Linked DNA regions of Homo sapiens. The protein of the gene in region 7 purifies or fractionates together with the protein of the main gene of each other region. This does not show direct contact. Each region holds a gene or a part of one and is shown on either strand. Other genes may lie near its edges. The genes, in order: NFXL1, LONP2, ARHGAP35, ARHGEF10, PRKAR2A, NCOA7 and HSPA12A.

What was found.
Region 1: the proteins of HSPA12A (region 7) and NFXL1 purify together in Homo sapiens (affinity purification with mass spectrometry; one large-scale study listed by BioGRID and IntAct). This does not show direct contact.
Region 2: the proteins of HSPA12A (region 7) and LONP2 purify together in Homo sapiens (affinity purification with mass spectrometry; one large-scale study listed by BioGRID and IntAct). This does not show direct contact.
Region 3: the proteins of HSPA12A (region 7) and ARHGAP35 purify together in Homo sapiens (affinity purification with mass spectrometry; one large-scale study listed by BioGRID and IntAct). This does not show direct contact.
Region 4: the proteins of HSPA12A (region 7) and ARHGEF10 purify together in Homo sapiens (affinity purification with mass spectrometry; one large-scale study listed by BioGRID and IntAct). This does not show direct contact.
Region 5: the proteins of HSPA12A (region 7) and PRKAR2A purify together in Homo sapiens (affinity purification with mass spectrometry; one large-scale study listed by BioGRID and IntAct). This does not show direct contact.
Region 6: the proteins of HSPA12A (region 7) and NCOA7 purify together in Homo sapiens (affinity purification with mass spectrometry; one large-scale study listed by BioGRID and IntAct). This does not show direct contact.

What each region holds. Positions count from the first base shown.
Region 1 is NC_000004.12:47,852,084-47,855,583, reverse strand, and holds part of NFXL1 (NF-X1-type zinc finger protein NFXL1), read left to right. Parts: intron 1-420; coding exon 421-525; intron 526-3,500.
Region 2 is NC_000016.10:48,355,075-48,357,849, forward strand, and holds the end of LONP2 (lon protease homolog 2, peroxisomal), read left to right. Parts: 3' UTR 1-1,590; coding exon of another isoform or gene 1,591-1,636; 3' UTR 1,637-2,275; downstream 2,276-2,775. UniProt on the Homo sapiens protein: ATP-dependent serine protease that mediates the selective degradation of misfolded and unassembled polypeptides in the peroxisomal matrix.
Region 3 is NC_000019.10:47,000,497-47,003,996, reverse strand, and holds part of ARHGAP35 (rho GTPase-activating protein 35), read right to left. Parts: coding exon 3,309-3,500; 3' UTR 1-3,308.
Region 4 is NC_000008.11:1,952,926-1,956,033, reverse strand, and holds part of ARHGEF10 (rho guanine nucleotide exchange factor 10), read right to left. Parts: intron 1-3,108. UniProt on the Homo sapiens protein: May play a role in developmental myelination of peripheral nerves.
Region 5 is NC_000003.12:48,767,875-48,771,374, forward strand, and holds part of PRKAR2A (cAMP-dependent protein kinase type II-alpha regulatory subunit), read right to left. Parts: intron 1-3,500. UniProt on the Homo sapiens protein: Regulatory subunit of the cAMP-dependent protein kinases involved in cAMP signaling in cells. Type II regulatory chains mediate membrane association by binding to anchoring proteins, including the MAP2 kinase.
Region 6 is NC_000006.12:125,888,460-125,891,959, reverse strand, and holds part of NCOA7 (nuclear receptor coactivator 7), read right to left. Parts: intron 3,022-3,500; coding exon 1,979-3,021; intron 1,319-1,978; coding exon 1,150-1,318; intron 1-1,149. UniProt on the Homo sapiens protein: Enhances the transcriptional activities of several nuclear receptors. Involved in the coactivation of different nuclear receptors, such as ESR1, THRB, PPARG and RARA.
Region 7 is NC_000010.11:116,732,567-116,736,066, forward strand, and holds part of HSPA12A (heat shock 70 kDa protein 12A), read right to left. Parts: intron 1-3,500. UniProt on the Homo sapiens protein: Adapter protein for SORL1, but not SORT1. Delays SORL1 internalization and affects SORL1 subcellular localization.

The DNA.
Region 1 (3,500 bases), on a different chromosome or scaffold from region 7:
CATATGGTTTCCATTACCGCTCCAGCTTTCATCATATCCAGGACATGGGGAAGAGAAGAACATGGAAGTATACTCTTGAAATGATCTGAAGCATGAATCACCTGTACTTGCTTACATTCCATTGACCAGAACTCAGTTATATGGCTATAACTAGCTACAAGGGTGGCTGTAAGATGTACTGTTGGAATGGAGCTGGGGAGAATAATTAAATATAATTAAATTATATATATATAATTAAATTATATAAGTGTAATTAAAATAATTTATATCTAAAAGAAAAATAGTTTACAAATTATCCCATTAGCTAGGATTGATTGACCCTTTGTGTGATGGACTCTCTTAAAATTGTTGGGGTATGGGGGAAACTAGAGTATGATCAAGATGTAAGTATGTAATTGCTTTATTTTGATTTTATTTTAGCTTCCTTGTGGTCATAGATGCAAAGAGATGTGTCATCCTGGTGAATGTCCCTTTAACTGCAACCAGAAGGTAAAACTTAGATGTCCTTGTAAAAGAATAAAAAAGGTAAATATTTTAAGTTATTGAAAATACTTTTCTATATAAGTTGTTTTTGTGTGGTTTTCTTGTTCTTGTTTTTTGATCTATGTGTTTTGGTAGTTGTTTGGCTTTTTTTTTTTTTTTTGCCTTTTAATTTTGAGGTTTTACTTCATAGAACTTTTTTATTATTGAAATGAGCCTACTAGTTCTTTAAACATTTATTTTAAACATAAGCTTTGGCGATTTAATTTTCTGCAATTTAACAGTAAAAGGAAAATTATTTTTTATGTTGGAACCAAATTCAATGCCCTGTTTTGGTCAATGTGCTTTAGATTTGAGGTCTTTGAACAAGGAACACAATGTAACGGGTAGAATGTTTCATTGCTTAAGAAATGGCTTGAGATTAACTTTGTTGCTGTTATTTATGAAATTCTTTTTACCATCAGTATTGTCCTTTGAAAATATTGCCTTAAAAAGACCTCATATGAATAGCCTTATAAAGTAAAATAACATGTAAACTTGGAAAGAACTAATTTTAAGATAAAATGATGGTAACAGAGGAGTAAATGGGCAAAAACTAATGATTACAAAGCCTGATGGAAACAAACTATATACTGCTCAACAAAACTTATGAAGGAAAATATACTGTCCTAATAGTCTTTTTCTCAATTCTCTGTTTCCTTGATCTTCCCTGTTGGCAGTGCTTACTCCTTTGAAACCAACTTTTTTGACCTCTGATTTACCCTATCTCAGTTATAGTCGTAACTCCTTTTTTTTCCTTCATATTCCTATTGTCATTCCCTAAAGCTTGTCTTTTTTGTCTCTTGAAATTCGCTTTTATTCATCCATGTGATGGATATGTATTGAGGATCTTTTATAGGTCCTTTGCCTTTCATTTATGTTCATAGTTTCTGATATGTTTTCCTAGGATAGGGAACTTCTGAATTTAAATTTATACACTTGGCCTTTTAGGGAGTGGAATCTTTAAGTTTTAGATATTTAAATTGACCCCCTGTACCTGAAAATAAATACTTGGTCAAGCCATTTTTAATGTGAGATGTCTCTTAAGTTTTCTCTGAAATCTCATGTCTTGTCCAAGTGCCATATGCCACCCACCCGTTAGTACTTTGGAACAACTCTTTTCTGGGCTTTGGCCACAACTTCGTGACCCATTTCCTTGTCTCTAGTCACACCACTTCCCTGTTCTAAATTCTTCAATGGCTCTTCATCACTTATGGAAAAAGTGCATTGTATAAAAAATGTGTATGTGTAGGTATATGCAGACTCGGCATACCAGGGAGGCTATGATAAGACATTTGCCTGCTTGTTCAGTCTCGTCATCTAGCAATCATCTCTGTGAATCTGTTACTTAAGTGCCCTAATACATATATTGTACCCTCGCTTAGCTTAGGCTGTGGCAATGTATATATATTTTTTTCCTGTGTAAAATACAATATGTTTTTCCTTTAGCTCTCTGCTTACTAGAATCCTGCTAATACTTATTGGAAGCACTTCCTTGTTTGAGAAGGTTTTCCTTCCCCAGGTTCCCTTGGGAAGGCTTAGCTGTTCCTTCCTCTTGACTTTCTTTGTACTGGGTTCATAATGTAGAGCTTTGTGATTCTAGGTATCTGTAACCTTGTTTCCTCATCTGTAAAATAGAGTTTATAGAGATTTATTGAAAGGAATAAAAGAGGTAGTGCTTACATAGCATTTAAAACAATGCTATGTTTAATAAATAGTAGCTGCCATTACTATAAAAGAGGTAGTGCTTACATAGCATTTAAAACAATGCTATGTGTAATAAATAGTAGCTGCAATTACTATTGTTATTTATTTAGCACTTAACAGATGATTATACTGTTTATTTCTTACTGTGTTCCATTTCCCTGTCATGGTGTTTAGCATGTTATAGGCACTCTGTAAGTATCCTCTGAATGAGAAAAGATAAAATCCTCTTCTAAGCTGATGGACTTAATGTCTATAAACACACGATACTTATTTTTGTCTCCAGTGTTTGTTCATGTTAATTTTCTTATGTCTGGACTGTCTTTGGAGGACAAGACTATGTTTATCACTAAATCAAGCCAAAAATGAAGAACTAAGGAATAAAAAAAAAAAAACCCTCCAAGTAATAAAATTCCATGCCATAAAATGCTTTTACTAAATGCACTTTACTCAGGATTTGGTAATCTCATGTCTAAGCTGTGGTAGATTTGAACAAAAAACTAGAGTCTGAGGGTCTGGTGAGACAGGAGAAACTGATACAAATTAAATATACTGAGAGTAAAAGTGACATTGGCAGCAATAAATGAATGAATAAAAGATAGATGTACTACAAAAGGCAGTCTAAAACTAATATAAAGACCACTCTTCAACTCAGTAGGTCATCGTTTTATTCTGTCGTAGTACAGAAATTGGTCATAGTTTTGATGTCAAGACATCAAAAACAGTAGATCAGTGTTCTTTCATTAAGGAGGTAGTGAAGTGCCAACATAAGCTTTAGAACAATTTTCATCTAAACTTAAAAAAAGTTTAACAGTCGAGAGAAAAATTTGTAGCTCCCCAGAAAACTCTCTAGAGCTGCACTATCTGAGATGGTAGCCACTAGTCACATGTGGATATTTAAATGCAAATTGTAATGAATTAGCATAAAACAGTATTAAAAATTTGGTTCCTCATTTTCACTACCCACATTTCAAGTGCTCAGTAGCCATATGTGGCTAGTGCTACTCTGTGGACTAATGCAGATTTACAACATTCCATCCCACGCACATACCAGGAAGCTCTGTTGGACAGCACATTTGTAGAACATTGTATTCCCTGGACACTTTGCAAGAATAACAAACAATAAAGAAAAGTAAAGAATAAAAACAACATGGGAGCTAAGTCCAATAGTGGCACATAGTAATTATTAAGTTGATTTTTAAAAATTTTATGGTATTCTCTTTTTTAAGTTAAGAGAAAATAAGCAAGTAATCACTATTTGAAGCAGATATTTAATG
Region 2 (2,775 bases), on a different chromosome or scaffold from region 7:
TCTTGGGTATTATGAGTAATGCTATGAACATGGGTGTACACATCTCTCTTGAAGTCCCTTCTTAGGTCCTTTAGGGATACATATCCAGGAGCAGAACTACTAGATCACATATGCTAAGGTCTGAATGTCCCCCCACCAAATTCGTATGTTGAAGCAACCACCAACGTGATAGGTGAGGCTTTAGGAGGTGATTATGTCATGAGAGCTCCATCCTCATTAATGGATTTAGTGCCTTTATAAAGGGGCTCAAGGGAACCAATTACCTCCTTTTTGCCCTTCGATTCCCTTCCACCATATGAGGACACAGCAACAGGCCCCGTCCTAGAAGCTGAGACTGGGCCCTCAATAGATGATACCAGTCTGCCAGCACGCTGATCGTGGGCTTCTCAGTCTTCACAACTATGAGAAATAAATTCGTACTTTTAAATTACCCAGTCTCAGGTATTCTGTTACGGTTAACACAAATGACTAAGACAACAGGATAATTCTGTTTAACTTTTTGAGAACTGCCAAACTTTTCCACCGCAGCTGCACCATTTGACATTCCTTCCAGCAATGCACAAATGTTCCAGTTTCTCCACATCCTTGCCAGCACTCATTTTCTGGGTTTTTTATAATAGCCCTCCAAATGGGTGTGACGTATTTTGATTCTATGTCCCTAATGACTAGTGATGTTGAGCATTTTCTAGCATTGATTTTTAAGATGTTACCCAAAGACCCCTTGTATCAAAATAAGCTGGATTTTTTTATTGAAAATTATTAACTCTAGAAATTTTAGTTTAAACTAGACTTAGGGATATGTGTATTTTACCGGTATTCCACGTTTTATGCATGGGTTTTTAAAACTTCTCAAGTATTAAAACTAAAAGCTTTAGGTGCTTTGCTTATCAAGAAATCCTACACTGTCCACTGGAGACATCCATGTTTTTACTTGGCTCTGCCCCTTTAGTGGTCCCTGTGAACCTTACCTCAAACCATGCATCTGGGGCAGAGATCCTTACTTGCTTGGTGGTTACAAATGCAAATACAGTGAAGAATGTCATCTTTGTGATTGTTCCTGAAATAGTTCACGAGAAATCCATGACCGTAAAGTACTGTGATAGTGATGTCTACCACTGTGAGCTTCCAGTACTAGGTGATTGGTCTGCATTCACAGTGACCAAAATCAGCTATGTGGCCAGGTAATTCACTGCTGAGGGCTTTGGATTTTCCTTTATGAACTACTGAAATGAGGTCAACTTGACTATTACTAAGGGACATTTTGCTACAAAGAATGTTAGTTTTGCCAATTCCCTTTCCAAATCTAAAATTTATTTTAACCAGGATTTTAGATGTAAACATCAAGTAGTTTTGGTTGTTTCAATGAAGTAACATGTTTAAGCTCACATTATTTGAAGTACTTCAGTTCCTATTGCCATGAAAATTGTATCCAGCAGCTAAAAAAAAAAAAAAAAAAAAAGACTACAGTTAGTCATTATCCAATTTGATGATTTATGGTCCAACACTAATGCTCATTTTTTTTGTTTGTTTTACAAACATTTGGTGGATACCACAATGAAAACTGCACTTAAAAAACAAAAATGCTGAAAGAGGAAGGAAATATCAAAAAGGTCTGAATAGACAACAGGCAAATATGGTGAGTGGTCATTGAGATGTTTTAAAAGTTACAGCAAAAGGACTTCTAAAACAATTTTAGGAAAAGCTTTGTCATGAAAATTCATTTCTTTGGAAATACTGTAGTTTGTACTTAATGACACTGTCAGCACATTTCTAGGCAATACAAACTCTTGAGGCTAAATCCTCATCCTGACATGACAGTGCAAGCCTGTCAAAATGTGACCCCAAAACCAGGTGTCCTTTTGCTCCATTATTTATATCTGTAAACCTGTTATTATTTTCAGAATTCAGAAAGGCCTAAGAAAATTACATCTATGATAATAAAGTGTATTTCTTTGTCAAGTTTCTAGAGCTATATAAGGATAGCGAAAATATTTGGTTCAGCAAGACACTGGGGTATCAAGTCAGGCATAATAAGCACTTTATAGCACATCTAGCCTTCCTCATTCCCTTACGCAGTGGACATCATACCCTTTTGTGGAGGAGGGACCAGGCAGAGAAGGTATTTAAATAAAAACTGGTAGATACAGAGTCAGAAGTCAACCCAGGCAGTTAGAATCTACAACCCACACTGTTTGCCACCAAATCTTAGTAGATGCTTGATAAGGAATTTTGTTTGGATGGTGCCATTTTTAGATAAACGTACGTTTCTTTTGGTAAATTCAGGTTAGGATCATAAGCAGTAAACTACCAAATACTCCTTTGTGCTTTGAACATGCACACTGGATGAGTGGGGAGGGGAATGACAAAGCTTCAAACTCCGGGTCTCTGTAACACTCTATCTGTACCTTTCATGTTTAACCTACACAAATACCACAGTCCTGCGTGGTAGTTCACACACACTATTCACCCTGTCGAGTTTCGACATTACTTTTATGTCCATTCTAATGCAGCAGTCACAGACTGACCCCCCAGGTATGTTGGATTTGATCCATTATTTTCTTAATTTGGATTACTTACCAATTCTTCTAATCAGGAGTGTGAATGAAATAGAATTCTACCATTAGTAGAATCACTGCAGATGTTTCTAAATATGAAGAGCTTTTGGGGGTTGGAGGCAGCACACTATTATTTTGGTGAGCTAAGCTATCTACAGCCACTTACATACGTTTGAAGTTTGCAGAAAGGTGGGTCTTAAAATCATACATATTACAATAA
Region 3 (3,500 bases), on a different chromosome or scaffold from region 7:
GTGACTCTTGATGACAAGTCACTGCAGCTGGCCTGCTGTGAAGTTTTGTGTGTGTGTGTGTGTGTGTGTGTGTGTGTGCGTGTCCAGAATGCCTGGTGGCCTGCGGGGGTCTTTACCAAGGGGATGCTGGCTTGACCCAGGCCTCCTTTCCCTAAGAGCAGCAGGAGCTGAGTGAGGCACAGGGATGCCCCCATCCCCTTCTGGCCAGCGAGCTGCTCCTATGATGTCACCCTCTGTCCACCGTGACAAAGACAGACACATCCTGCAGAAGAATCTGGGTCGCAGCAGGTGCCCTGCCTCCAGCAGGAAGCAAAACCAAGGCGGTGGAGGCAGGAGAGCACGGAGACAGACGCCCCGAAGCTCTCTCCCTGTTCCTCCCCAAACGCTAGGCGATGGGAAAGACGGGGACAATGCAGAGTAAATGTGTGCCGTGACACCCAGTATGCGACACAAGCCAAGAATTCTAAGTGGATTCACGAGCCACGCCACCCAGCCTTGGGTCTTCCCTCTTCAGCCGTCAGAGCCAGGATCAGTCTCTGGCTTTGCACCAAGGGCTGCTGTCCCCTCACACGGTGTCTGCGCTCTCGCTGGGCAGGGGTGGCTGCCCCACGTCCCCATTCTGGACAAGCCAACGCCCTCCCACCCAGTGCTGAGAGCTGCATGCGAGTCCCATGAGCACCCTCTGTGCACACACCTTCCAGAACTTAGAGCCCCAACAAAAGCGGGAGTGGGGGCAGCATGGTCCCAACAATCCCCAGGGACGCTCCTCTGTGGCTCCCATGCAAGTGCCCATTTGGGCTGCACGCTTCCCTGACCGGACGCTGAAGGCCGGCCTGCCACGACTGGCCATGCCCCTCAAACGACCGAGATGTCCTCTAGTCCCTCAGCCCGGAGCAGCAGATGAGAGGCTGAAGTTAGCGGGGGAAACAAGAGGAACCCTGTGGCTTCCTGTGCATGGGGGCTCCCTTTGGACATAAGCTGCCACAGTCCCTGCCTGCCCACCTTGGCTGACAAGGCGCTGCATTGGGAGTGCCCCAGACCTAGTTTCAGGTACTTCTGTGAGGAGAGGGGTAGAGAGCCCAGGTGCTCCTCCTCACCACCCCCTCCACACTCCTGGGGAAGTCACTGGCCGCACATACATCTGTGGAATCGGGCCAGGTGGCTTGGGACGTGGCTTTTGTGCTCACACAAAAGAGGTGGCAGTGTTAGCTCAAGCAGTGAGGGGGACTGGGCTGCTTTTGCCTGCGTTCACACAGGGACGGCCCAGGGCACCACCATGCTTTCCCTCCACCCCCAATTACGTGAGGAGCTGACCAGGTGAGCATAACCTCGAAAAGGGGGCGGGGTCAGTAAATGGGGCCGTTTCCTCATCTGCTGGGGTCCAGGGCTGGGGGAGTTTGGGAACGTTTCTGCCAACCTCAGCTAAAACGAAACACAGATGTCACCTTCCAGCCAACCCTGGGCCTACAGGGCCAGGCACAGCTCCACCAGAAGAGACAAAAATTCATCATCCAACATTCACAGAAAACACGCCTGAACCCTGGGTTTGTTCTCCGATTTGTGTTCCTCAAAAGGCGGTAAAACTTGCAAGGTTAGGTGTTTCCAAGCACCTTCGTTGGCCATTGAGAACTGGAGACAGTGAGCCAGCCGTCCCCAGAGGGAGCTCGGGAGCCGAAGGGCCACTCCCGTCTCCAACCACTGCAGGCGGGCACGGGCAGGGCAGCTGCAGACGCCCGGGAAAGGTGTCCATCAGGCCCCCTGGAATACACCACAGATCCTATTTCTTAAAGTGCAACGAGCCCCAAGGGCTGTCTGGCATGGGGCCCTCTGCACCCCACTAGCTCTCGCCTGGGGGGTGCCTAGTGTCAGGCTTCCTGGCCGCAGAGGCCACAGCCCAGCCATGCAAGTTTGAGGTGCTGGGGGGCAGAGGTGGCCAGGAGAAGAGCTTTTCCTGGGGCAGTGGGAAGGCTGGGCTAGGGTGGTGGTGGATGATATGCAGGCACAGCGCCTCTGGGTCAGCGAAGACCAGGAAGGATGCCCCTTCGAGGGCACCAGCAGACCGCCATTCCTTCAAAGTGCCCCACCTCGCCCACATCCCCATGAACACTCCTGCTGGTGGCCTCCATGGCTGGGATGAAACGATTCCACTTCAACACCCAACACACCAACCCCAACCCCAAGTGCACCTGGCACCTTCCAGCTGTCCCCAACCCCCCACCAAGCGCCCACACACACTCACACTCACATGTGCACACACACCCCCACCCCACGCACATGCTCAATTAGTGTTTCTATCGTAATGGACTGTGTTCTGGGGCAGCCCAGGTTCCAGCCTGCACTGCCATCTCCCCAGCTGTCCCCACCAAGGGCTCGAACCCTCTTCTTGGGAAAACGGGGGATCTAGCGACTAGACCTAAGTGGGTGAGTGGGACCCCAGCAGGCCCTCAGGCCACAGCTCCAGGCATCCTGGTTTTGCTGCCACAAAGACGAGGGTCAGCTCCACCTGTGTGCCTCCCTCCCTCCCGGCAGAGGCGGGCACAGAGTGGAATCTTGAGGTCTGTAGTTTTCTTTCTGTGGTTTCTTCCTTTTTAATTACTGGAAGGGTTTTTCCATTTTTTCTCCTAGTGTTCCTTTGTTTGCCAGGGAATGTTTCGGGAAGGCTGTGGAGTGGGACGGTGGGGATGAAGCGGGGAGTCCCACACTCTCTGGGTCCAGGCACAAAGCTATCCTCCGTTGTTCTGATCTGCAGAGCCAGCGCCCTCAGCAGGTACCTAGTGGTGGCAGAGCCGTGGCCTACACGTTCCCAAGGAGGCCGCCAGCCGGGCTGTACCCTTACCTTGGGGGTGTGTGCAGATGGAAGGTGGGAAGAGACAGACCAACAGGAAGTGTTCTCTTCAGGGGTTGCCAGCCCCACCCTGAATCTCAGAGCATCCTCCTCCCCGGCAAAGGCCAGGGCACTGTCCCGACCATGGGCTCTGTACAAGCAGAGGGAGGCACCCGGAGGCTGGTGTGAGCAGCTACGTGGGGTGGTGGTCCAGGGAACAGAGGGAGGGCACTGGAGCCATTGCCTGCCTAGTTCAGTCCTCAAATGGGTCCAAGCCAGCTCAGGTCTGCAGCGCCAGGCCCAGGGTACCTGGCAGCCCAGCCGATGGTACCATTGGCTGGTGCTCCCACTGAGGTCTTGAGAAGGTAATGGGGAGAGCCACTTGCCCCTGCCTCTGTCCCCAGTGGACTTGGTTTTGTTCAAGGCCAAATGCCACCCCGTCAGAGAGAGGACCGGTTCTCCTGTCGCCCCAGGTCTTGGTGGCTCACAGCGTGTGTTCGGCTTGAAGCTGGGAGGGAAGCAGTGGCTGCATTGGGGACTGGGGGGTGGGTGGAGGCGACTGTGGGGGCGACGGCTGACTTGTGACAGGCGTGGAAGTGAGGAAGGGGACGGTGGAAGCCACGGCAGAGGGGGAGCTGGGCCTGGCGCCGGGGGGCTCGGTGATGGGCCGATTGTA
Region 4 (3,108 bases), on a different chromosome or scaffold from region 7:
ACAGGCCCCAGCCCTCACCATCATCCTACTCTGGCCAAGGCAAATGACATCACTGAATCTTCCACCGTGGTGAGAGTCCATTTCCCAAAGAGGAGAGTGGCAAAGTGAAGTCTGCAGGGAGCAGGAGCTGGGGGGACTGTGCAGGGACAGGCCCGCTCATCACCTGGCGAAGCACACACCTGTGATCCCTGCACACCAGCGATGCTGCCCCTGGGCAAGCCCCCAGAAGGAGCTTCTGCCCATGTCAGCAGAGCCAGCCACACAAATATACAGAGGCTTGATGTGTAATGCAAATGGGTAGCACCTAGCTACCATCCAAAGAAACACAGTGAGTGCACGTCCTTTCAGGAAGCACCTAGCTACCCATCCAGAGAAACAGTGAGAGTGCACCTCCTTTCAGGAAGCACCTCGCTACCCATCCAGAGAAACAGTGAGAGTGCACCTCCTTTCAGGATGCACCTAGCTACCCATCCAGAGAAACAGTGAGAGTGCACCTCCTTTCAGGATGCTCCTAGCTACCCATCCAGAGAAACAGTGAGAGTGCACTTCCTTTCAGGATGCTCCTAGCTACCCATCCAGAGAAACAGTGAGAGTGCACCTCCTTTCAGGGAGCACCTAGCTACCCATCCAGAGAAACAGTGAGAGTACACCTCCTTTCAGGGAGCACCTAGCTACCCATCCAGAGAAACACAGTGAGTGCACCTCCTTTTAGGGAGCACCTAGCTACCCATCCAGAGAAACTGTGAGAGTGTGCCTCCTTCCAGGATGCACCTGGCTATCCTCCAGAGGAACAGTGAGAGTGCACCTCCTTTCAGGAAGCACCTGGCTACCCATCCAGAGAAACAGTGAGAGTGCACCTCCTTTCAGGGAGCACCTGGCTATCCTCCAGAGGAACAGTGAGAGTGCACCTCCTTTCAGGGAGCACCTGGCTATCCTCCAGAGGAACAGTGAGAGTGCACCTCCTTTCAGGGAGCACCTAGCTACCCATCCAGAAAAACAGTGAGAGTGCACCTCCTTTCAGGGAGCACCTGGCTATCCTCCAGAGGAACAGTGAGAGTGCACCTCCTTTCAGGGAGCACCTGGCTATCCATCCAGAGGCAATGAGGGCACCTCCTTTCAGAGGCAGGCTGCAGGCAGGGAGAGGAAAGCACTATAGCTGTGGCACCAGCAGGGACTGACCCCAGCAAGGCTGAGAGAAAAAGCAACAGAGGCTGCTTGCACCATGGGACAGCTAGGAAAATGCAAAAGCCGGAAAGGTGAAAAGTACCCTTTAAGATACAAATTGGTACAACTACAGAGGAGGACCAAAGGAATAATTGACGTAAAACTCAGCATCATCATTTCCTAGGGTTGTGAGCAGAGAGGGCTGAGGCTGAGAAGGGGCAGCTGAGGCTCAGTGTGTGAGTCACAGCCCCTTCTGACCTGGGCACAGGCAGGTGGCCTCTTCTCGTTACCATTTAAACTGTGAAACTGTGCGTTATGCACAATTCTATGTATTTACAGGCTGAGTGTCACTTATCTGAAATTCTTGGGACCACAAGTGTTTTGGATTTTTTTTTTTAATGTTGGAATATTTGCATTGCACTTGCCGGTTGAGCATCCCAAATCTGAAATCCAAAATCTGAATTCCTCCAATGAGCACTGCCTTTCAGCATCACGTCGACACAGAATTTGGAGCATCTGAGGCCAAGGCAGGCGAATCACTTGAGTTCAGGAGTTCGAGACCAGCCTGGCCAACATGATGAAACCCCACCTCTACTAAAAATACAAAAATTAGCCAGGCATGGTGGCTGGTGCCTGTAATCCCAGCTACTAGGGAGGCTGAGGCAGGAGAATAGCTTGAACCTGGCAGGCAGAGGGTGCAGTGAGCCGAGACTGTGCCACTGGACTCCGTCCTGGGTGCCAGAGTGAGACTACGTCTCAAAAAGAAAAAAAAAAAATTGGAGCATTTCGCATTTTGTTTTTGGATTTGGGGTCCTCAACATGTACAATCCCATATATCATAATAAAAACATAAATTAGGAAATGAATGGCAAAACTAGAATTCCTTAATCCTTGTGGGTGGACCTGCCAAAATCTGAGTGCACGGAAGCCACCGTCAGGTCGGCCTGGGAGGAAATCACAGAAATGGAGCCCGTAGGAACAGTTCTGCTCTACAAGCTTCCTGCAAAGCGTTTTCTCTGTTAGTATTTCCCCCTGGCTGACATAGTAACCCACATAGAATCTAAGGCTGTGGTTTACTGAACTTAACAGGACGAGGAGTTTTCCGCGTCACTGCAGGCTCTGCACACACCACTTCTGCTGGCTGTGTTCTACCCATTACCGGCAATGCCACCATTTTATTAAATGGCCCAATCCGTCATTACGAACTGCGGGTCACCTCCTGTTTCGTGCTGTTAAAAATTAAATGCTGTGGCAAATGTCTTCTTGCATCATACTTTGTTCCTAGCTTAGGCTGTTTCCTGGGCCAATTCCCTGGATTGGGAATCCTGATTCCAGACACACAAGCATGTTTTAAGGCCTCCAATCCCTAACGGGACTGTGTCCAGAAAGGCCATGTGTTCCAGCCTGAGCTCTTACTGACATTGCAATAGCACAATGGAGCCTTTTCGGATCCCCGGCTTCCTTCTTCACAATATAAAATACAGAAAGGAAAGACGGAGATCCCGGCTTCCTTCTTCACAACATAAAATACAGAAAGGAACGACGGAGATCCCGGCTTCCTTCTTCACAACATAAAATACAGAAAGGAATGACGGAGATCCCGGCTTCCTTCTTCACAATATAAAATACAGAAAGGAACGACGGAGATCCCGGCTTCCTTCTTCACAACATAAAATACAGAAAGGAATGACGGAGATCCCGGCTTCCTTCTTCACAATATAAAACACACAAAGGAACAACGGAGATCCCGGCTTCCTTCTCCACAATATAAAACACAGAAAGGAATGATGGAAACTAATTCTGGCAGTAAACAGAATATAAAAACATAAGATTCTCCTTGGACTACTAAGGTAAAAAATGGAAAAATATATAAATTGATAATTCCAATTAAACAGTCTATTAAGTCATTATAATACACTGAAAAACCACAGATAATATGAATTG
Region 5 (3,500 bases), on a different chromosome or scaffold from region 7:
GATCACACCACTGCACTCTAGCCTGGGAGACAGAGCGAGACTCCATCTCAAAAAAAAAAACAAACAAAAAAACCCCACAAAAACAGAAAACCCCAATATTTTATTTATTTATTTAAAAAAAACCCATACAGGCTGGGAACAGTGGCTCACGACTGTATTCCCAGCACTTTGGGAGGCTGAGGTGGGGAGGTGGGTGGATTGTTTGAGCCCAGAAGTTTGAGAACAGCCTGGGCAACATGGCGAAACCCATCTGTACAAAAAATACAAAAATTAGCCAGGCGTGGTGGCGTGCACTTGTGGTCCCAGTTACTGGGGAGGCAGAGGTGGGAGGATTGCTTGAGCCCTGGGAGGCGAAGTTGCAGTGAGGTGTGAGAGCACCACTGCACTCCAGCCTGGCCAACAGAGTGAGACCGTCTCAAAAGATAGATAGATAGATAGATAGATAGATAGATAGATAGATAGATAGATATAGACAGACAGAGAGACAGACAGACAGACACACACACACACATACATAGATACATAGATAGATAAAATAAAAGGCCTGGCACAGTGGCTCACACCTATAATCCCAGCATTTTGGGAGGCCAAAGTGGGTGGATCACTTGAGGTCAGGAGTTCGAGACCAGCCTGGCCAACATGGTGAAATCTCGTGTCTACTACAAATACAAAAATTAGCTGGGCATGGTGGTGTACACCTATAGTCCCAGCTACTTGGGAGGCTGAGGCATGAGAATTACTTGAACCCTGGAGGCAGAGGATGCAGTGAGCCGAGATCACACCACTATACTCCAGCCTGGGCAACAGAGACTCCGTCTCAAAATAAATAAATAAATAAATATTAAAAAATACACAGAGGGCAGCAAAGTTAACTCCCAATATTTTACAAATCCACCTACAGTGTAACAAAGATTAGTACAATTGCAATAGCAAACAATATTTCGGCTGGGCGCATGGCTCACGCCTGTAATCCCAGCACTTTGGGAGGCTGAGGTGGGTGGATCACTTGAGGTCAGGAGTTCGAAACCAGCCTAGCCAACATGGTGAATTCCCATCTCTACCAAAAATATAAAAAATTAGCCAGTACTGTTGGCACATGCCTATAATCCCAGCTATGCAGGAGGCTGAGGCAGGAGAATTGCTTGAATCCTGGAGGCGGAGGTTGCAGTGAGCCGAGATAATGCCACTGGACTCCAGCCTGGATGACAGAGCAAGAGTCCATCTCAAAAACAACAACAACAACAACAGATTTCTAACTAAAGAGAAAACAACAAATATCTTTCTTTTTTTTTTTCTTTTTTGAGACAGAGTCTCGCTCTGCCACCCAGGCTGGAGTGCAGTGGCACAATCTCGGCTCACTGCAAGCTCCGCCTCCCTGGTTCACGCCATTCTCCTGCTTCAGCCTCCTGAGTAGCTGGGGCTACAGGCGCCTGCCACCGCGCCCGGCTAATTTTTTGTATTTTTAGTAGAGACGGGGTTTCACCGTGTTAGCCAGGATGGTCTCAATCTCCTGACCTCATGATCCGCCCGCCTTGGCCTCCCAAAGTGCTGGTATTACAGGCGTGAGCCACTGTGCCCGACCACAACAAATATCTCTTACAGCGACTTTTTTTTTTTTTGAGATGGAGTTTCGTTCTTGTTGACCAGGTTGGAGTGCAATGGCGCAATCTTGCCTCACCGCAACCTCCGTCTCCCAGGTTCAAGTGATTCTCCTGCCTTGGCTTCCAGAGTAGCTAGGATTATAGGCATGCGCCACCATGCCCAGCTAATTTTGTATTTTTTAGTAGAGACAGGGTTTCTCCATGTTTGTCAGGCTGGTCTCCAACTCCTGACCTCAGGTGATCTGCCCACCTTGGCCTCCGAAGTGCTGGGATTACAGGCACGAGCCACTACGCCCGGCAAGCGACTTTTTTTTTTTGAGACAGAGTCTCACTCTGTCACTCAGCAGGCTGGAGTGTAGTGGCATGATCACAGCTCACTGCAGCCTTGACCTCTTAGGCCCAGGTGATCCTCCCAACTCAGCGTCCCAAGTAGCTGGGACTACAGGCATGTGCCGCCACATCAGCTAATTTCTTATTTTTCATAGAGACAGGGTTTCACCACGTTGCCCATGCTGGTCTTGAATTCCTAGGCTCATGTGATTTGCCCACCGTGGCCTCCCAAAGTACTGGGATTACATCATGAGTCACCACACCCAGCTGGTTCTACCCCTTTTTACGCATGCTTTAACACTTCCCAAAACTCTCTTTTCATGTGGTGCAAGGCCAGTTCCCATGGCTGTGGAGAATATAAAAAAAGCACCAGACATCAACATAGCCTTTGATGAGCATCCAATCGAGCAGTGAAGAGGAAATTCCCACAGGCAGCAAGTGGTCAGAGGCAAGCAAACACCCCTGAAGTTCAAAAGAGAAAAGGAGTGCTACTCTCTCCTGTGACTGCAGGAATTTCCCAGGAAACCTTCTATTGACTTTCAATAAAGCAAGAGAAAGCAAAAGAGACTACGTATAGGGGCCGTGATGGCAGCTGCCCATTATAAAAGCAGGAATGTAGGATCCAACTTGAAAAACTCAGTGACGACACCAGATCCTCCCTACTTCAACCTCAGAAGGCATTTCCAAGGCCAAAGAAGAAGTCAGGCTGGAGAGGACCTTCTGTGAGTTACTTTCCTAGAGGTGGTATTGAAGCTTTGGAAGAGTCTGGGCTTGCAAAGCAAGTCAATTAACAGGAGAAAAGTAGAGGCCAAAAGGATATCTTGATAGGTCACTGACCTAAGAAAGCAAGGAGAAGAGGAAATGACTGCCAAAGGCAAGGAAATAGAAAGAATAGGAGTCTTAGGAAAGGAAGTCTCAGGAAAAGAAGGGTGGTGAGTAGCACCATGGCCATGGGGAGCTTGTGCCATCATTCTGTGAACACCCACCTTGTACCAGGCACTAAGGGAGTCACTTCTCTTATGCCCATGTATTTAATCCTCATACCCCAGCCACAAAGCAGGTGGTTTTACAGCTCAATATACAGTTTTCAATTTTCATTGAGACTTGGTCTTAGAGATTATCCAAGAATGGGTTATTTGGCCGGGTGCGGTGGCTCTTGCCTGTAATCCCAGCACTTTGGGAGGCCGAGGTGGGCAGATCACCTGAGGTCAGGAGTTCGAGACCAGCCTGGCCAACATGGTGAAACTCCATTTCTACTAAAAATACAAAAATTGGCTGGGCGTGGTGGCACATGTGCACACGTCTGTAATCCCAGCTACTCAGGAGGCCGAGGTAGGAGAATCGCTTGAACCCAGGAGGCAGAGGTTGCAGTGAGCCAAGATCATCTCAAAAAAGAAAAAAAAGAAAGAATGTGTTATTTGGCTGGGCACAGTGGCTCATGCCTGTAATTCCAGCACTTTGGGAGGCCAAGGCAGGAGGACTGCTTGAGCCCAGAAGTTCAAGACCAGCCTGAGCAACATAGTGAGACTCTGTCTCAACAACAACAACAACAAAAAGACAGGTGTGGTG
Region 6 (3,500 bases), on a different chromosome or scaffold from region 7:
AAGAGACACATTTTCTCCTCATTCTCCTCAATATCCCTAAATTTCCAGGAGATGCTGTGGGGGCTGCAGGCACAGGTGATGGAGTATATTACATAAATGCAAAACAAGTTATGTTTAATGCCTGGGTTAATGTGGGTTTGTGTCTAAGGCAGGTAAAAGCTATTAGCAAATTCATTAATAAAAAGCCTATTATTTTTCACATTAAACTATAATTTATTAAAATGAGACAACTCTCCCAATAAGAATGATCATTCTAGGTAGTAGTCAGCCAGAAGGTGCACTCTTGCTTAGAATTTAATTTTGTTTACTGAGAAATCATGCTATGGAAGCTTGCTGAGTGTATTTGCTCTTGGCAGGTGTGTTAGCCAGAATATCTGGCTAGATGATGATGTTTTTAAGGGGCAAGATGCATGGTTTTAACAGTGTTGAAAACTAAGTGCAAGGACTTTATAAGACATTTTTATTCTACCACATATATGAAATAAAAGCAATTAATTGTTTTCTAAAAAGAATATTCCCTAATTATTTTTATTATAAAGACATCCTCAGTGATATACTGTTGAAGAATTTCTATGCCACTATCCCTCCTATCCTAGACTGCCACATAACCAAGAAGGTATCTTCTTTGGTGAATTGAAAATATAATTTTTTATAGGAGTATACAACCCTTGAGACTATCCAGGGGATCACATTTCTTATGCTGCTGAGCTACAGATGCTCCCTCCATAAGGACAATAAATCTTTCATTCCCTAGAATTATAAGCACTTTGAAAATTATAATCCTGCCTCTTTCTTGCACTTAAGAGGTGTTTGGATCTGCTCCATAGTATTCCTTTATCCTCAATGAAAGAGCACTTCTAATTACTGGTACTTGAGAACATCAAATTCTTCTTTCATTTAAAAATCAACTAGGTAGAAAGTTATGAAAGCAGTTCAGGACATAGTACCTATGATGACTCCATATTTGTTATATTAAAACCACCATTTAGCAGAAAGTCCCTTTAAATAATATCCTTCTAGAATTCTAAAATCTACAATTCAGATAAAGCTCTTATTCAAGAATAAAATTAAGTATTTTAAGATAAAGAATATCAAAACGCCATCCAAACCTAACAGACCCACAGACTTTCCATTGTAGCCCATACTCACCTCTCCCGAGGAACAGCAAACCAGTACTCTGGCTGCTTTCTCCGTTTGCCGTACTGCTGGACCATGGCTGCAGTGTGAGTGGCAAAGGATTTTCTCATTGGTTTTCCCACTTTGATGCACAGGAACATGGGTGGGGTCTTGCTTTTTTCTTCTTTTGAAGGAAGTATATCTGAATCACACACGAAAAAACTGTTCCTCAATATTGACAATATTGGTAATAGCAGAATTTTTCAACTTAAAAAAAATAGTGCACAATCCTCTCTTAGTCAAAACATTGCAGAAACATCCTACAACATCGTATCAGGACTAATAAATTTTTCAAGCCTTCTTTAGCACACAAGGAAAAAGCTTTGGTTGTTTCAGGTTGAACTACATCCCATGAGCTGCTACATACTGAAAATAAGTTTAAAAACCAATAGAATAGCAAATAATAGAGAATTGGGACAATTCACAGGAATACATATTAATGAATGCTACTGAGAACACAATATAACATAATGCAATTCAGTTTAGAATTGAGATTTCTTCAAAAACAGTTTAAACTCCTCTAGATTTAGAAAATAAAGGTAAAAAAGGAAAGTAACTTGAAAGATTAAAAGTAAACGACTTTTGAAGTAGGTATCTAGAGATCTATGTCACAGTCCAAGTTCCAAAATAGATACCATATCTTGTAAATTTTCTCCCCAATTGTTAATGCTATCAGCAAAGATACACTCTATTGAGAAAATACTGTTTTCAAATAAATGTACTAATGTGGGTATTACATGTGCAAATTGTAGAAAGGCAATTATGCAACAGAATATAAAGGCATTAAAGAAAAACAGCTTACCTTCAATGGGTACCTGAATTCTCTTTAACAGCCACAACTGAACTTCAGATTTATTATCCATTTGTGCACCTTGACAGCTGTTGTCCAGAGTAGATTCCAAAGAGGAGTCTAGAGCCTCTTTAATCACATTTGCTTCTGTAGAAGAGTTCAGTTTTACCGGGAGGGGCTCTCCCTTTTTCACCCAGGTCTTATCTGGCTCTTTATTGCCCTCAGTTATGGGATCACCCGCCTGGGAAAGAGAACTACTAAGGGTAATGTCTATTCCCCCTGGTTCAATACTTTTTCCATCACTTAATTCTGTTTTCTGCAAATTTTCAGATACCTGTGGCCCTTCTTTGTTCTTAGTCAGGTAATATTCAATGAGTTTAACTTTATCTAAATCTTCATGTATGTTCAGTGTGTTTTCTACTCGGCTTTCTGGCGAACCAGACTGCTTGTCCACTTCTGGCATTATATCTTGCTTCTCACAGGTTTCTAAATCTAGCGCCCCCTTCAGTTCAACATCATTCTCTGTTCCCAAAAAGGCTAGGGCTGACTGCACCTGCATTTCCACGGCAGAATTGTTTATTTGTGACTCAGCTTTCTTTCGTTCCTCTGGGTCAAGAGAAAGGCACTCCTTCAAGGTGTCTTTTTTGTGCATTCCACCACCAGTTTGAGAAGAAAGTTCTTCCAAGTCAACAAAATCATCATCTTCCCCTAGAAAGTTTTCTTTGGCTGTAGATTCAAATGCAGAAGAAGTGTCGGAAGGTTCCTTGCTGAGCTTAGTCACTGTGGGAGAACCATGGGATGTCTCCCTAGAGGAGTCCAGTTTCTTTAATTTCTCTGACACAGAGCTGCCTGAGGGCTTTGTAGGTGTATGTCCTGTGGACTTCTCCAAAGGTACTATTGGTCTGGAATCCGAAGTCATAATTTTCTCTCCATTCTGCTGTCGTTTTTCCTTGTTGATAGATTTGAACTTACTGAATGGGTTGATATCCTTTTCTGAAGCCAGGTCTTCCCATTCTCCAGGCCTGTACAGAGGACAAAGATCCTGAGGTAGGTCACTGTTGGGGGAGAAATGGTGGGTGCACATGGAATGTTAAAAATAAAACCAAAAACAAAATGGAGGAAAGGCAAAAAACAAAACAGAAACTCAACCAAAAACCAATACATAAATATATCACAACTTAAATTTATGTTCAAATGATTTCAGAATAAAAAAATAAAATCAAGAAATTGATTTCAAAATAAAACATAGGTCAACTAAAGGAAATGGAGAAAGAATGAACCATGAGAGTTGCATATCCTACTGGAAGCACATGATGGAATTGGAAGTTATACATGAACATGAAGATGTTACCCATAAGATTTCTAAATATGAAATAATAATGTTTCTGACTTTCATGAAGGAAAGGATAAAGGAGAGGAAATATTTTAGTACCAATGTCTAAAATTCCTTAAATGTGCAAACATTTTCCTTTTTATCAAATAGTGTAGAAAACAACTACATTAATTTTGAAAAGCTCGTTGACTTAGTAGCTAC
Region 7 (3,500 bases):
GGGCAACCACTACTGTCAAGTGAGGGAACACACAAGAGACTAGAAAAGAAAAGCTGGGCCTGCGGCTCCACCATTGCAGAGTGTTTTATTCACAGCAATTTGACTTGGCACTTCATTCCTTTGAGTTAAGCATTCTTCAAATACTTTTTTAAAATGTAACTCCTGCTGGAGGGACAAGTCATGAATTTGTTAACGGCAAGGAGGTTTGGATCCTTGTGCCGTCTCTGAGTGACCGGGAGTGGCTGGCGGGACTGCTGGAGGATTCTGTAGCCATTGCGGAGTTCAGCTGGAAAGCATGCAGAGGGAGTCGGCAGACCTCGATTCTGAGCCTGGCTTTGCCTAGTGTCCTGGGGCAGTCTCTTCCCCTCCCTGACTTCAGTTTCCCCATCTGTAAAATGAGAGGGTGGGCCCAGTCCAGACATTAGACAACCTGGTCCCATCTAGCTGTGGATGTATCCATGAGCTCTGTTTTCTAACTGCTGGCCCAGGGAAACCACCACCCAAACTGATAACCATCATCCCTTCAAATCGGTCCAGCAGCCATGTGGACTGACTACAAGCAGTTGTTTTCTGAAACTTTCATCTGTCCTTTGGGCACAGACTCCTGCCTGATGGTTGTGCTGTAAACAGTTTCTTATCCCAGCCAGCGGAGATGGTCACTAAGGGACAATGACTAAAGGAAAGAAAAGGAAGTAAGTGGCCAGAGGAGTTTAGCCTTCAGCCCAAGGAAACATGGGAGACAAGCAAAGAGAGGCCAGCCTGAGGCCTCAGAGGCAGCAGGCTGGAGCCCGAATACCTACAGCTTCCCTGTCCCAAACAGAACCAGCCGCCTGGGTACAGGAACCACTGTTCCTCATCACAGAGAAACCAATAAGATCACGAGGTCTGATTTACAAAACATAGGAAGCCCCAAGGGACATCATTTAATTGTCAGTTTATAGGAAGCAAAGGGCACTGGCGTAATCCATTTCCCTCTGAGATCTTGGGTGCTAAGTGGGTCGATGAAACAGGAGCTCCATCCTACAGAACTTACTCCTGGAGTCTCTGTTTTCTGACATTAAAATTCTGAACATAACTGACAAAACTACCCACTAAGTATGCAAACATCTGGGAAGCAAAGCAGTCTCAAAATTTCAAATGACTGAATAGGAAGTGACTGTAGGCTCTTCCTATTGGCTGTTATTTGAGGCTCCACCCCATATCGGAGCAAATATTTTTTAAATGAACACTTATCCCACATCAAATATAAATACACTCAGTCCTCAACTTAGGATGACTCAACTTATGATATTTTCAACGTTTTTATGGGTTTATAGGGACGTAACCCTATTGTAAGTCAAGGAGCATCTGTTCAAGCACTTCCACTGTAATGCAGCATATTTTCCTACAAATCTTCACATTCTACAAACCCATACACTAAAAATAACAGGATTCATGAGGAAAACAAGGTCGGTGTACATCACTCCACACCTGCGGAACCTTGCTACCGGAACCTTTCCAAAAACAGTAACGGAGCACTCACTTCTTAGGGGGCCATTCTCATCAAAATGCAAAACCCAACAGGGCACAGTGGTTCACACCTGTAATCCCAGAGCTTTGGGAAACCAAGACAGGCAGATCACACCTGTAATCCCAGAGCTTTGGGAAACCAAGACAGGCAGATCACCAAGACAGGCAGTTTGAGACCCGCCTGGCCAACATGGTGAAACTCTGCCTCTACTAAAAATACAAAAATTAGCTGGACATGGTGGCACACACCTGTAGTCCCAGCTACTCGGGAAGCTGAGGCAGAAGAATCACTTGAACCCAGGTGGTGGAGGCTGCAGTGAGCCGAGATCACACCACTATACTCCAGCTTGGGCAATAGAGCGAGACTCTGTCTAAAAAAAAAAAAAAAAAAAGCAAAACCCATCCAGGGTGTCACCCACACACCCATACCCATCATTTTCTTATAGGGACAATGTCTTTGCAGCTCCTTCATCTGCCCTCTCAGCTGCCAACAGAGCTTAAGGGAATGGGGAATGGAACAATACTAAAACAGCCCTGACTTACACTAAAGGTAGTTGCATCTACAGATTTTCAGCTTTTTTTTTTTTTTTGCTTTTTTCATATATTAGCCTTCAATCATGAAAAAAGTGCATTCTGGGCTGAGCACGGTGGCTCATGCCTGTAATCCCAGCACTTTGGGAGGCCGAGGAGGGCAGATCACAAGGTCAGGAGATCGAGACCATCCTAGCTAACACGGTGAAACCCTGCCTCTACTAAAAATACAAAAATTAGCCAGGCGTGGTGGTGGGCGAGTGTAGTCCCAGCTACTCGGGAGGCTGAGGCAGGAGACTGGCATGAACCCGGGAGGCGGAGCTTGCAGTGAGCCGAGATCGAGCCGCTGCACTCCAGCCTGAGCGACAGAGCGAGACTCCGTCTCGAAAAGAAAAAAAAGAAAAAAGTTCATCCTGATCTGTCAAAGTGCAAACATACTGGGAAAAATTGAGAATGTGCCAACACAACTTTTCTGAATACCACCATCATTCTTCATTTATCACTTATAGAAACACATGTTCTAGCACAACAAACAAATAATTGTAAGTGTCAGACAATCACTGGGCACTTGCAGAACGTCTTAAGAAGTGAGATCTAACCTACAAGTTGCTTTAAAGCATAATATAGTTTTCTAAAGTTTGTAGTTTCAACATTTTTGCCAAGCCAACTCTGTTAGATTAAAAATAGCCACACATTCTTTGCAGGTCCTCTCACTAAGAGGTGAAGGCAATTTCTCCATCCCTCTATCTGAGCTGGCTTCAAGACTTGCTGTGACCACCAGGAATACAGCAGACGTGATTTTATTGGACTTCCCAGGAACGCCTCAAGAGGCCTTGCAGCTTCCCCTCTCATCCTCTTGCTGTCCTGAGGCCACCACATAAAGAAGCCTGAGCTTGCCTCTTAGAGGATAAAAGACCATGTGGAGAACGAAGCCCAGCCGACAGCCAGCACCAACCCCCAGACCTGTGAGCGAGGTCATCTTGGACTACCCAGACTAGTTGAGCCATCAGAGTGTTGCAGTCACATAAGTGACCACAGGGAAGACCACCAAAACAACCACCCAACAGAGACCTGCCCAGAGAATCATAAGCCATAAAATGACTATTGTTGCCAGGCACGGTGGCTCATGCCTGTAATCTCAGCACTCTGGGAGGCTGAGGCAGGAGGGTTGCTTGAGCCCAGGAGTTTGAGACCAGCCTGGGCAACATAGTGAGACCTTGTCCCTATTTAAAAAAAAAAAAAAAGCCAGGCATGGAGATGTGCACCTTTAGTCCCAGCTACCCACAAAACTGAGGTGGGAGGATCGTTTCAGCCCAGGAAGCAGAGCTTACATAAGCCAAGATCACGCCACTGCTCTCCAGCCTGGGTCACAGAGGAAGACCTTGTCTTAAAATAAATTTTTTTAAAAAGACTATTGTTTTAACCCATTAAACTTTGGGGTGGTTTGCTACATAGTAAAA